Regions from separate parts of the Homo sapiens genome. Here region 2 is linked to region 1. Evidence: fine-mapped expression QTL. A gene starts in region 1. The other region holds a variant in brackets. All regions are shown on one strand. Distances are from middle to middle.

Evidence for each region. PIP is the estimated chance that this variant, and not a neighbour inherited with it, causes the effect.
Region 2: its variant is fine-mapped to the expression of PKNOX2 in spleen (GTEx, PIP 0.96).

Annotation. Positions count from the first base shown.
Region 1 is chr11:125,161,349-125,166,721 of GRCh38, reverse strand. PKNOX2 (PBX/knotted 1 homeobox 2) reads right to left here and starts at 1,971. Exons shown (of 13, transcript NM_001382323.2): 1 at 1,946-1,971. It overlaps PKNOX2-DT (PKNOX2 divergent transcript), which reads left to right and starts at 2,113. Exons shown (of 3, transcript NR_125759.1): 1 at 2,113-2,381. RefSeq lists a silencer at 2,109-2,258.
Region 2 is chr11:125,266,242-125,271,614 of GRCh38, reverse strand. All of the region lies in intron 2 of PKNOX2 (PBX/knotted 1 homeobox 2), which reads right to left. It overlaps PKNOX2-AS1 (PKNOX2 antisense RNA 1), which reads left to right and starts at 4,817. Exons shown (of 2, transcript NR_187382.1): 1 at 4,817-4,975. The variant C/T (reference allele first, on the strand shown) is at 2,775.

The DNA.
Region 1 (5,373 bases):
AGCGGCTCCAATCAGGGCACTGGAGTTTGAGCCGGTCCTACCCTGGGCCACAGCCCAGACTCCTCGGCCCACTGTGGCACCTCGCTGCTAGCGCTGCCCCCCGGCCTTCATCGCAGGCCGCGGCCCCTGCGGGCCACCGCTCCCGCCCCGCCGCGCTGCGCCCGCAGACCCAGGTGGCTCCTGGAGCACTCCGAGCCGCCTGGGTCGGGACCTCAGATCCACTCCCAGCCCCGCGAGGCTGCCCTGCCGCTTCGCCCAGAAGGTCTCTTCGATCTGTCCGCTTCCCGGAATCGCTCTCTTAGGACCGGGTCCTGTGTGGCCCAAGTCCTCTCCTCCTAAAGAAACACTTTCAGGGGGAAGCAGCAAAAATTCGGGGCTCGCCTGCCATGGCTCAGATCAACTACTTTCATCGCCTACCTAAACGCTTTTTCACACGCGGAGCTGCAGGACCCCTCGTGCTACCCTCCCCAAATTCCAATAGCTTCCACCACAAGAAAAAGCTGTGATCCTGTTACTGAATCCTAAAAACGCCACCCGTTCCTCCAGCCCCCAACTCCGACCTCCAGCCCTCTGCTCTGGCCGGCGTGTAAACTACTTATCGGCCCCTCGATCCCGATTCCGTAAACAGTCTGGATCCTATAAACCGAACTCTAGACTGGTCCTAAAACCCAGCCCTAATTCAGGCCGATCCACAAGCCCCTACCCCTCAATTCCCAACCCGAGTCTCCCCACCGCGCGGAAACCCCCGGCTCCCCCGTGAAGAGCCCCGGGAAAGGACGGCCCATTTCGCTCGTTTCTTCCTGGGGATCGGGAGCCAGGAAAGCCCGTCTCCTAACCCGAAAGAAATGCAAACTTTGAGCGGCAGATTCGGGATCCTGCGCCATCCCCCTCAGCTCTCCGCTCTCGATCGCTTTCAGTTCCCTCTTTTACGAACTCATCCCCTAGTTCTCGAGCCAGAAGGGCTCCCGATTCCCAAGCCTCGCGCGGGCCCCTACGCCCGCCTCACCAAAGATCCCCAGCAATCATGGAAAGCCGGTGACCCTACACATTCTCGCTCCTCCCTGGGTGAGGGTCCGTGCGTGTAGCCCCTCGGATCCTGGCTTCCCGGGCCCCGCCGGTGTTCCCCTGTCTCCACTGATCCGTCTGCAAACCCTCATTCGCCCTGCCTCCCCAGGCCGCGGCCGCGGCTCCTCGACTCCTCCGGTCACCTGGCCCCAGCCTGGGACCGCTCCCGCCTCCAGCCGCTGGAAAGCATCTCCAGGCTGGTGGCGCGGAGTAAGCGCCGGCCCCAAGGACGCCCGAAGCCGGGAGAAAGAGAACCTGGAGCCTGCCCGCGGTTCCCAGCCTCTCCCCGCGGAGCGCCCGGCCGGGAGCCTTCTGCACCCGGGCTCGGGCCGGCGTGCCTGTTCCTATTCTCGGGTCCCCTGGCGCTCCTGGCGCACAGCTCCCCGCCCGCCCGCTACGGGGTTGGGCCCGCGGCGATTCGAGTCCGCAGCCCGGCTCCTTGCACCCGAGGACAATGCGCGGCCGGCCACGGGCCCAAGCGCGGCGAGGCGGCGGCGGCGGCGGCGGCGGGGCTGAGCGCTGGCCGGGCAGGGGAGCGGGCGGCCCGCGGGGCTCTCGCAGCCTCCGTGCCCGGCCTCGCCGCCCCTCGCGCTGCTCCGCTCCGCGCTCTCCCGGCGCTTCCCCAGCTTCTCTCTGCACGCTCCCGCCGTCCCTCGCTGCTCCCTGCCTCCCTCCTCCCTGCTGCCTCCCTCTCTCTCCTCCCTGCTGCCTCCCTCTCTCCCTCTCTCCTCCTTGCCCTGTCGCAATGAATAATACTCTGGCTTGGGGACTGGAATAAAACACACGCGCTCTGAGGCAGCCGCCCGCAGCAGCAGCCGCCGCCGCGCCGCCGCCGCCGCCTGCAAAAGCGTCTCTGACATGGAAATGAATGACAGCTTACCTGATGCCAATCTTCATCAGACTGACACCGGCGTGACAACACAGCCTATACTTCCCAGCACTGCTCGGGACGTCAGCGGCACAGGGACCCGCCCCCCGGACCCCCCCTTCACACACCTCCCCTCTCCCCACTCCCCCTTTTCTCCCCACCCCCCATCACCCCCACCCACTCCCGGCCCGGCCGCTGCCAAGTCGGAGGAGCCGCTGGAGTGTCTCCCTCTACCGGAGGCTCTCGGGCGGCGGGCGCGGGCCTGCTCCTGCGGCAGGGAGGCGGGCGGCCTGGAGAAGCGGCTCCGCTCGCGAGGAGCCTCGGATGGGGAGTGCGGTGGACCCCCAGGAACTCTGGAGCACCCTCCCGCCCCCAAGCCAAGTCCTCCTTAGCGAACAACCGGGGCCGAGTTCCAAGATATCACCGGTGCTGAGGGGACCGAGATGAGGTGAGATTTTCTGTGGACCCCAAGAGAACTCCCCAGAAATGATGAAACTTAAAACGGGCAAGAAATCCTTCCTTCCACCAGCACTCCCCCTCCCCCTTTTCCTGCCTGGCTGGCCTCATTTTTATGATTGCATTTGAATAATTCTCATTACCCTGGCCCCAGAAAAGGTGTTCAGATGACACTCTGGTTAGTTATTCCTGGTCTCAAGAGCTTTTTCTGCTGTGGGCTTCCCGGGGTGTCTGGTTCAAGGTGGGGCAGAGGGAGAGAGGAAAGAGTGGATAGGCTTTGTCAGTAAAGCACTTCTTTGCAAATGTCAGGCAAGCCTGTTCTAAGCCACTGCTATTTTCATTCTAATAAAAAGTCCTCAAGAAACTCAGTGAGTTCCCAGAGTTCTGGGGGCTGGGGTGCAGTCATATAAAGGGAAAGACCAGCTGGGCTGTTTCAGCCTGGGCCTGCTGGGGTGGCTTCATCTACATCAGGGAGGAAATGGGCTCCTTACATGCCCTCTACAGTGGAAGACAAAAGCAGGCATGTGTAGACCCACAAGCGCCTCCATTCACTCAGCAGAGATCACAGTCCTACTAAGAGCCACACACAGGAGCACACTTGCTTGCTTCCTCAACTTAGCACATGGCCCTCCGCATAAAGGGACAAGAGAACCCCTTCTGCCTCTGGAAGTTTGCTTCTTGCTCCCCATAGAGGAGCCCTTTCAGCCAGTCAGGCAGCCATTGATCCTCTGACCCCAGGCCAGGCAGGGGGCCTGGAAGAAGCCCAGACAAAGACACCGACAAAAGCGGGAAAGCAGAAAGTGAAACCCAGCCTCTGGGTTTTCAGTAAAGAATCTGACCCAAGAAGTTGAAGGCTGCCCCTGAGCTCTTCTCAGGCCTCTGGGTCGCCACTCACCCGCCTCCGTCATGGGCAAGGATGAGAGCTGTTAGCATTGCCTGGCTCAGGGGAGGCAATTGAGACCCTTCTTATATCACATCCCAGATACACACACTACTGTTTGTCCAGATCCTCCCAATACCCTCAAATCCACCCACCAACGTTGCTTGTGGGAGAAACTCTTCAGTGGTAGCCCCCATTATAGACAGATTAGAATCCTCTCACCTTCACATAGAACCTTCAAAAACTTCACTAGGTGGATTTATGTCACCCTAGCCTCTGATCTGCAGTCAGAGTCTCTGGCTGCTGACAGCATAATCGCTATTATATATTATACATTGTATAATAATATAATAATAATGAATGCACTTGCCCTTTTTATGTGGTACAGAAGCGGCCAGATTCTCCAACCCAGAGGCTGGAGGTCAGGCTGCCATAAACTCTCAGAGGGAAGCCCTCTTCAGATAAGGGAGGGGGAGGGGAGATCCATTTGTCTCTGCCCAGGACCCCTGGAGGGAGGAGTTTCTCTCTTTCCCATGGCTCCCAGTGAGTTGCTGCAGCCTGCAGAGTCAGAGGGGAAAATCAGGCTGAATTCACCCCATCAGAGAGGTGTCAGTGAGCCATAAATAGGACCGCAGGCAACAGCCTTGGATCACTGATTTACACCTGTCACACCCCTCGTTTTCTGAAATCTAGATCAATGCCCAACACTTTCCTGATATGGGAGATCCATTGCCATGAGCTATTAATTTTTGGAGTCTTCAAATACTATGATTTTCACTAATACCTTTTTGGTGCTTTAAACTGCACATCGTAGTTTTAAGTAAATATATCTTGCTTTGACTATTTTTGTCATTTGCAAGAGCTTAAAAAATGATTATCCAAAATATAACCATCGTTTTTATAATCACTGAAGGCAAATATTTTCCCTGCACCCACCAGAAGCTCTGCTGTGTGCTAGCACTAAGAATAAAGAGCAGAAGCAAAGAGGCTCAGGTTATGGCTCCTGTCCTCAAGAAGCATTCATTTGTTGAAGAAGACAAAGCGCCAATATGTAAAACATTAAGTAGCAATAATACAGGAATCAACAGAAGACACAAGCTAGTAAATACTTAATGAAGAAATGAGTTGTCAATATGTCAAATTCCATGAGTTCCACATCTCAGTTTTGGCTCTGTCAATGAGTAGAGAAAGGATAGAGTAGAAATTAAGAATTCACTACAGATACTCTACAATTTCTTCCCCATCATCCCTCTGAGGATGAAGAAGAGAATGGAGAGGAATGTACATGTTGTATTGCATAAGCCATCAACACACTGACATTATAACCAAATAGAAGTTTCTACAAATCCTAGTTATCACTCCTAAATTTTGGAGTTTCTGTTTGGTTCTGGGCCCTCTTCTCACTCTACCTGCACTTTGTCTGTGGTATAAGCAGCCCACACCAGCCCAGGCTGCCTCCTCCAATCTTCCAATGTGGGTGATCAATGGCCCAACTGAATTCTGCCAATGTCACAATATGAATAAAAATTTAAGACCTGTCTGTATTAGTTTGCTCAAGCTGCCACAACAAAATGCCACACACTGGATGGATTCAACATGAGACATTGATTTTCTTACAGTTGTGGAGGCTGGAAGTTCAAGATCAACGTGCCAGCAGAGTTGGTTTCTGGAGAGGCTTCTCCTCCTGGCTTGTAGATGGCACCTTCTCACTGTGCCCTCGCGTGGCCTCTCCTCTGTGTACACAGGCAGAGAGACAGCTCTGGTGGTCTCTCCCTCGTCTTATAAGGACAGTCCTGTTGGATTGCGGCCTAACCTTATGACCTCGCTTAACCCCCCTAAAGGCCCTGTCTTCATATACGGTCACATTGGGGGTTAGGGTGTCAACATATTAATTGGGGTGGCGGACACAATTTAGTCCATAATACCACCCAACTACAGTTCCCTTCACTCTCAACTTAATTATTTTTAATGAATATTGATAGATTGCGAGTTCCCTGAGGATGGGGACAATATCTTATTTCATCTTAGGATCCCTAAAACCTGGTCCAGTGCCCAATCCAGAAAACATATTAAAGAAATGCTTGTTGGATTGAACTGAATGAAA
Region 2 (5,373 bases), 100 kb before region 1:
AACACAGGAACTGAGACTCCTCTGAAAACCAAGTGAGCAGAGTGCTCTGATACAGTGCCAGCATGGCAAATACTGAATGAACAAATGAAAACAGGAGTGGGGCTGAGAGCTGACCCAAATATGCACTCTGCCTTGGGATGGAGGTAGGGAAGAAACCCCGGTGCAAATTATGGGAGGAAGTCTATTCAAGAAAGGAGAGCATGGAACACTGTATTCAGGGAGAATTCAGCAATGGAGATGTCCGGAAAGAGATTATGAGTGTCTTGTCAGATTGACACGGTGTACAAATGGAAATCTGGTATTACTAAGATGAAAGCCCATTTTCTAAAAGCAGAGCAAAATGGCCAAGCTGGACTTGTAGCAAAGTTTGAAAACTAACTCAGAGCTCCTTAAATCCTTCCTAAGAAGGAAGGCCAGAGTATATACTAGAGTCTGGGTAGAATTCAGTCCCATGGCTATCCCAGCAGAGAGGACGGGATGGTGGGGCAGGGAACTGTGAAATCATTCAAACATCTTCCCTCCAAATCCACAGACAGGATCATCAGCCCCCATGAAAGACACAGAAGTTGAGTCACAGGGGTTAGTCCTGCAGAACTTCTTGTGTCACCCCCCAAGGCAGCTAAGGTTCAGCATCTTTGGTCCTAGCCAATCAAGAGCCTCTGAGATGCCTGGAAACTCCTCCCATAGGCCTTTCAAGTCAGACAGATCTCCACCTCCTGAATCAGCCCATGCCTGATACAGGCCCTGGTCCAGGAGCCTGAGTCAGGGGAGAAGAGCAGGGTGCTCGTGATGATTTCCAAGTTTCCTCCCGCCATCCTATCCTGGGAAACATGAAATGCAGAGTGCATCAGAGCCTCTCTGGGAAGGTGGGCTGGGGCCTGGGTGCCAATTGTTTAAATTTTCTCCTCAGTGGAATTACAGGCTGAGGAGTCCACATTGGCTTTCCAAACAAAGAGTGGCAAATTGCTAACTACAAAATCAATTTTTTTTCGAGTGTATTAGCTGTCCCCTCATTATTCTCCACCCCATGAAAGAATTAATGAGAGCCTGAGCCACAAGTGAATGAGGGCTTTTTAGCTTGGGAACACACACTGAATGGCGCCAGGCGTGGGACAATTACAGAAGATATTCAATAGGGGGAAAGGCTGACAAATGCCACATGAAAGCTGAAATTCAAACCTCCAAGGCTTCAGCCCCAGGTCTGGGCCCTTGAGATGACACATAGAGGCAGGATCAGCAGTGCAAGACACCATGTCATGGCAGGACCTGCAGTCTCCCAAAAGAGCCATTCACCCACCTGCAGAGGGAAGACCACACCTGGAGTCCAGGAGAAAGGAATGCCGATGCCAGTCATTCGGTTTGTAGGATTCCTCCCAGGGGAGAGAGGGCTGCTGGTAGTTGCAATCTTATCTGCGAGGTTGTGCTAAACTCACAGGAATTGGTAAATCCAGGAACACTGAGTTATTCAAATACTAGCCAAGAGTTCTTAAAACCTGAGGGGGCAATGGCTCTGATAGATGGATTCCTTAAGATAGCCAGAAAGACCATTGAATGGAAAAAGGAATGAGCAGAGGCGATGGTGGAATATTCAGAAACTGGATATTTTCATCTTCATTCCTTGTCTTAGTCACTGTTGTATCTCCAGTGCCCACAACAACACCTGGCACATATGAGGCACTCAATAAATATTTGTTAAATTAATGCATGCATAAAACCCAACTTCCAGGAAACTCTTTGCTACTGTGCCCCAAGCCAATCCTTGTGAGAACTCCCCAAAAGTCCAAGGACAACCGCCCCCGACCCCGTGAGGATGTACCAAATGTCCTACATCTAAATGTCCCAGCATCCTTTTGGATGAATGCTACCAAGTGCACTTGAAGAGACCTGGACCACCCTTGCCCCATTCTATTGAAGATAGAAGTGAGTTTCCTGTTTCATTTCCAGACTCACTCTCAGCCTCGCCCTGGACAGTGGGTACCATCTCCATCCATCAACCAAAAGCACACAAAGAAGAAACAGCTGAGAGTCCAAGAGGGCCTCAGTCTAGGAGACTTGGTCGTGCCTCTGCCAGTGTCAGCAGTCAGGCTGGATTCCTCAGCCCTGGCATTAATTGTAGCCCCTGTGCTATGATTACAAAATGGAATTAAATGACATGCCAAATTAAAGAGTTATTTTTTCTAATATATATTTTGCATAGGATGTGTTTGTAACAGCATTAATTATTTACACTGCCACAGAGAGAAAGCATAAATATAAAGAGAGAGATCAGATGGTTCCTGTAGGAGAAATAAAATGAGCATTTCCATCAGGATGATGAATACCTGCGGTCTCACTTTGGGGCTGGGCCTAGGGGGAGGTGGAGAGAGGGGGACATCTTGAGAACAAATCTGACAAGCGTTATCGAGGTTTTTGAGGAAGGAATATGTTAAAAATGAAAGTGAGTACAGAAAGTTTAAATATTTAATACCTGCATTAATTCTAATTCACACTTTCTTTATTTTTCAGATTAAAAATTTACAAGAATTCCCATCTCTTTCATCCTTCTTCCTCCCATGAGACACTTTGTGGTCACTGTTCCAGGGACCACCTTTGGCAGCATCTAGGTAAAAAGGGGCATGAGAACAGCAGCCCCCCTGCCCTCCACCCCACCCCCATGGCACCCTCCCGCCATGGGCATCTCCCCCAACTCCCCTATGAGAAGCCATTGCTGTCGGGCTGCTGGCGCCAGAATGACTAATGGGACCAAAGCCATTTCCTGGCCTCCTCAGCCCCCA[C/T]CCCAGAAAGGGTCACGGAATTCTCAGAGATGATGCAGCCAACTTGTGGGTTTAAAGTGCTTGTCCGAGCCCAGATCTCACAGGCACAGGCAGAATACCACCACTGAACTGATGTCTTCTTGAAACAAGAGACTTCTGTCCCACACAGCCCCAGGCCCCCCTGCCCTTCAGAAGCTTTTATTCTAAGGCCAACCAGACCAGCTTTATATGCTTTCAATAATATCACTGAAAGCCAGCATTGATTGACTTGGAAGCAAGGGAGAGCTAACTTCCCGAAGTCACCAACACCAGCTCCCAGCTTCAGCCCTGCCCCAACCCCAGCATTAAGCAGGTGAGCAAACTGCTCTCCTACTAAGAACAGCTTATACATCTGAATTCCCTTACAAAGCACTTTCCCATGCCACGTTTGACCCCAGAGTCCTGTGAAGCGGTCAAGGAGCTGTTATCAGCCTTCATTTTATACAGGAGAACACCCAGGTCATGTGACAGACCTAAGGTCTCCCCATTTAATTAAAATGTTTCCACTGTTACAATGCAGCTTCTACAGCACGCGGTTCCCAAAATACTGCATGTGAAAGGGGAAGGGAACATTGGGTTGAGAGATGCTTTTAACCCCACTCCCTGGTTTCCAAGTGACCTGTCTGCGTTGGGGGCCGACGTTTTCCGAGATGAGAGCAGGGAGGGGCAGGTGGGCCAAAGGACTGCATCTGCTCCCATGAGGGCCCGCTGTGTCCTTGCTCCTGTTTTCCCTGAGATTCTCAGTGACCTCAGGCCAGAGACCCTCAGAGGAGAGTTGTTGGCAAAGTTTTCTCAAAGCCCCAACATTTCTGTGACTCCCTGAGTTTTAAGTTGTCAGATACTGTGGCATTTTCCCCCTTCTTCTCACACCCTACCATCCTCCCATCACTTGCCACAAATTCCTGCACAAAACACCTTCCTAAACAGTGTTGATGAGCGCCTTGTTCTCATCAGGCCTCTGATCGAAGACAATTCCCTGACTCCATTCCTACTCTTCCTCACAGATCTATCAACCCAAAAAGTGCCTATAAATCAGCAGAGAAAACACACACACACACATGCACACACACACGCGCACACATGCACAACACATGCACACACACACGTGCATACACACACACACAGGCTTCCTCCATCAGAAAGATGAGCAGGAAATCTCACCTGTGGTAGAAATCTGAGCTATCAGTCTGGCGCTGGGAGATGTTTGGGGTTGTTTGTTGTTTTTACTTCCAGATACCTGCTGGAGTCAGGCCATCCCTTTAAACGAGAAGAGCGGAGCTAGAAAGCACCCCAGCTTAAGGCCTGGAGAGCAGAATCCCTCTAAGCAGTAGCTTCTTCCTCTCCCTCACATAATTCCACAGCCTCTTACTGAAAGGGCAAGGAAAGAGATGGCCCAGCCAGGCAGAGGGAACACCTGAATGAGCTCAGGAGGAGAGGCTGCCATGATAGCTCCTCCCTCTACAAGCCTTCAGGACAAGCACATCCTTCCTGACCCTTCCATTCACTCCAGATACGAGCACTATCCCGGGACAGGACTTAGATCCACGTGGGTACGGGAACACACACATGAGCACAAGGGGAGGAGTTTGGTAGAACTGTCGTTCCAGCTTGACCAAACGTCTACCTATGCTTCCCAACCTCACAGGTTGTGAAATTTTCAAATGATGGAGGGAGGAAAGGACATAGCAGAAGAGAAGGTGAGTTAGCCAAATGGAGATACCGATCAGGGTCCGTGCTTTGGCTGGTGACGGAAACAGACAATGATAGCAAGGACAAAACCCCTCCCTCTCATGGCCTCTAAACAGCCTCTGTCTCAGAGAAATCAAAAGGGAGATTTTTCCACAGAAAAATCAAAAGGGAGATATAGTGCTTGCCGAAGGCACATTCCTAAGGCCCTAGCACAACGTGGAGCGCATGATAGGCATGCTTGTTCTTTCTCCTCATTTCCCCCTGTTCTTTCCTCATTTCCTTGTGCTAAGTAAAATGACTTTAGAACCTGGGTGGGAAGTAGGGAAGAAGCCGTGAGTCCCGTCCTGACCTCCAGACCTTGCATGTGGATTGGTTTTGCTGCTGTAAGGAAAGGGCTCAAGGACAGCAGCTCAGCATCCTGTGGCTGCACACGCAGAGTGAGAGGGACATGGTGGCAGGGCCTATCGAGGGTCTGCGTGGCCAGGAACGAGGAGGTAAGGAGAAAACGTTCTCCCTTCTTACTGGGAGGAGCTCTTTGCAAACTGAAATGAGATTGTCTTACTGCAGAAGCCTACTTTTATTTTTAAAAAGTTATTTTCACAAAAATTAATACCCCCTTCCTGCCTCCACACATCCATAATCCCACCCCTTCAGAAAAGCAGGGCTGTCTTCCAGCCTCTGTCTCGCAGGCATTTTACTAGTGGGGAGGATGAAAGGTTCAAGAATCAAGGACATCACACTGGCTAAATGCCCCCAAAAGTCAGTGTAACATCTCCCATCTCAGAGGCATCTTCTTGGAAATGAAGCAAAGCAGGAAGGCAAAGGACTGGGGGTGACTGGCCGTGTGACCTTGGGCAAGTGACTTAACTTGTCTGAGCCTCAGTTTTCTCTC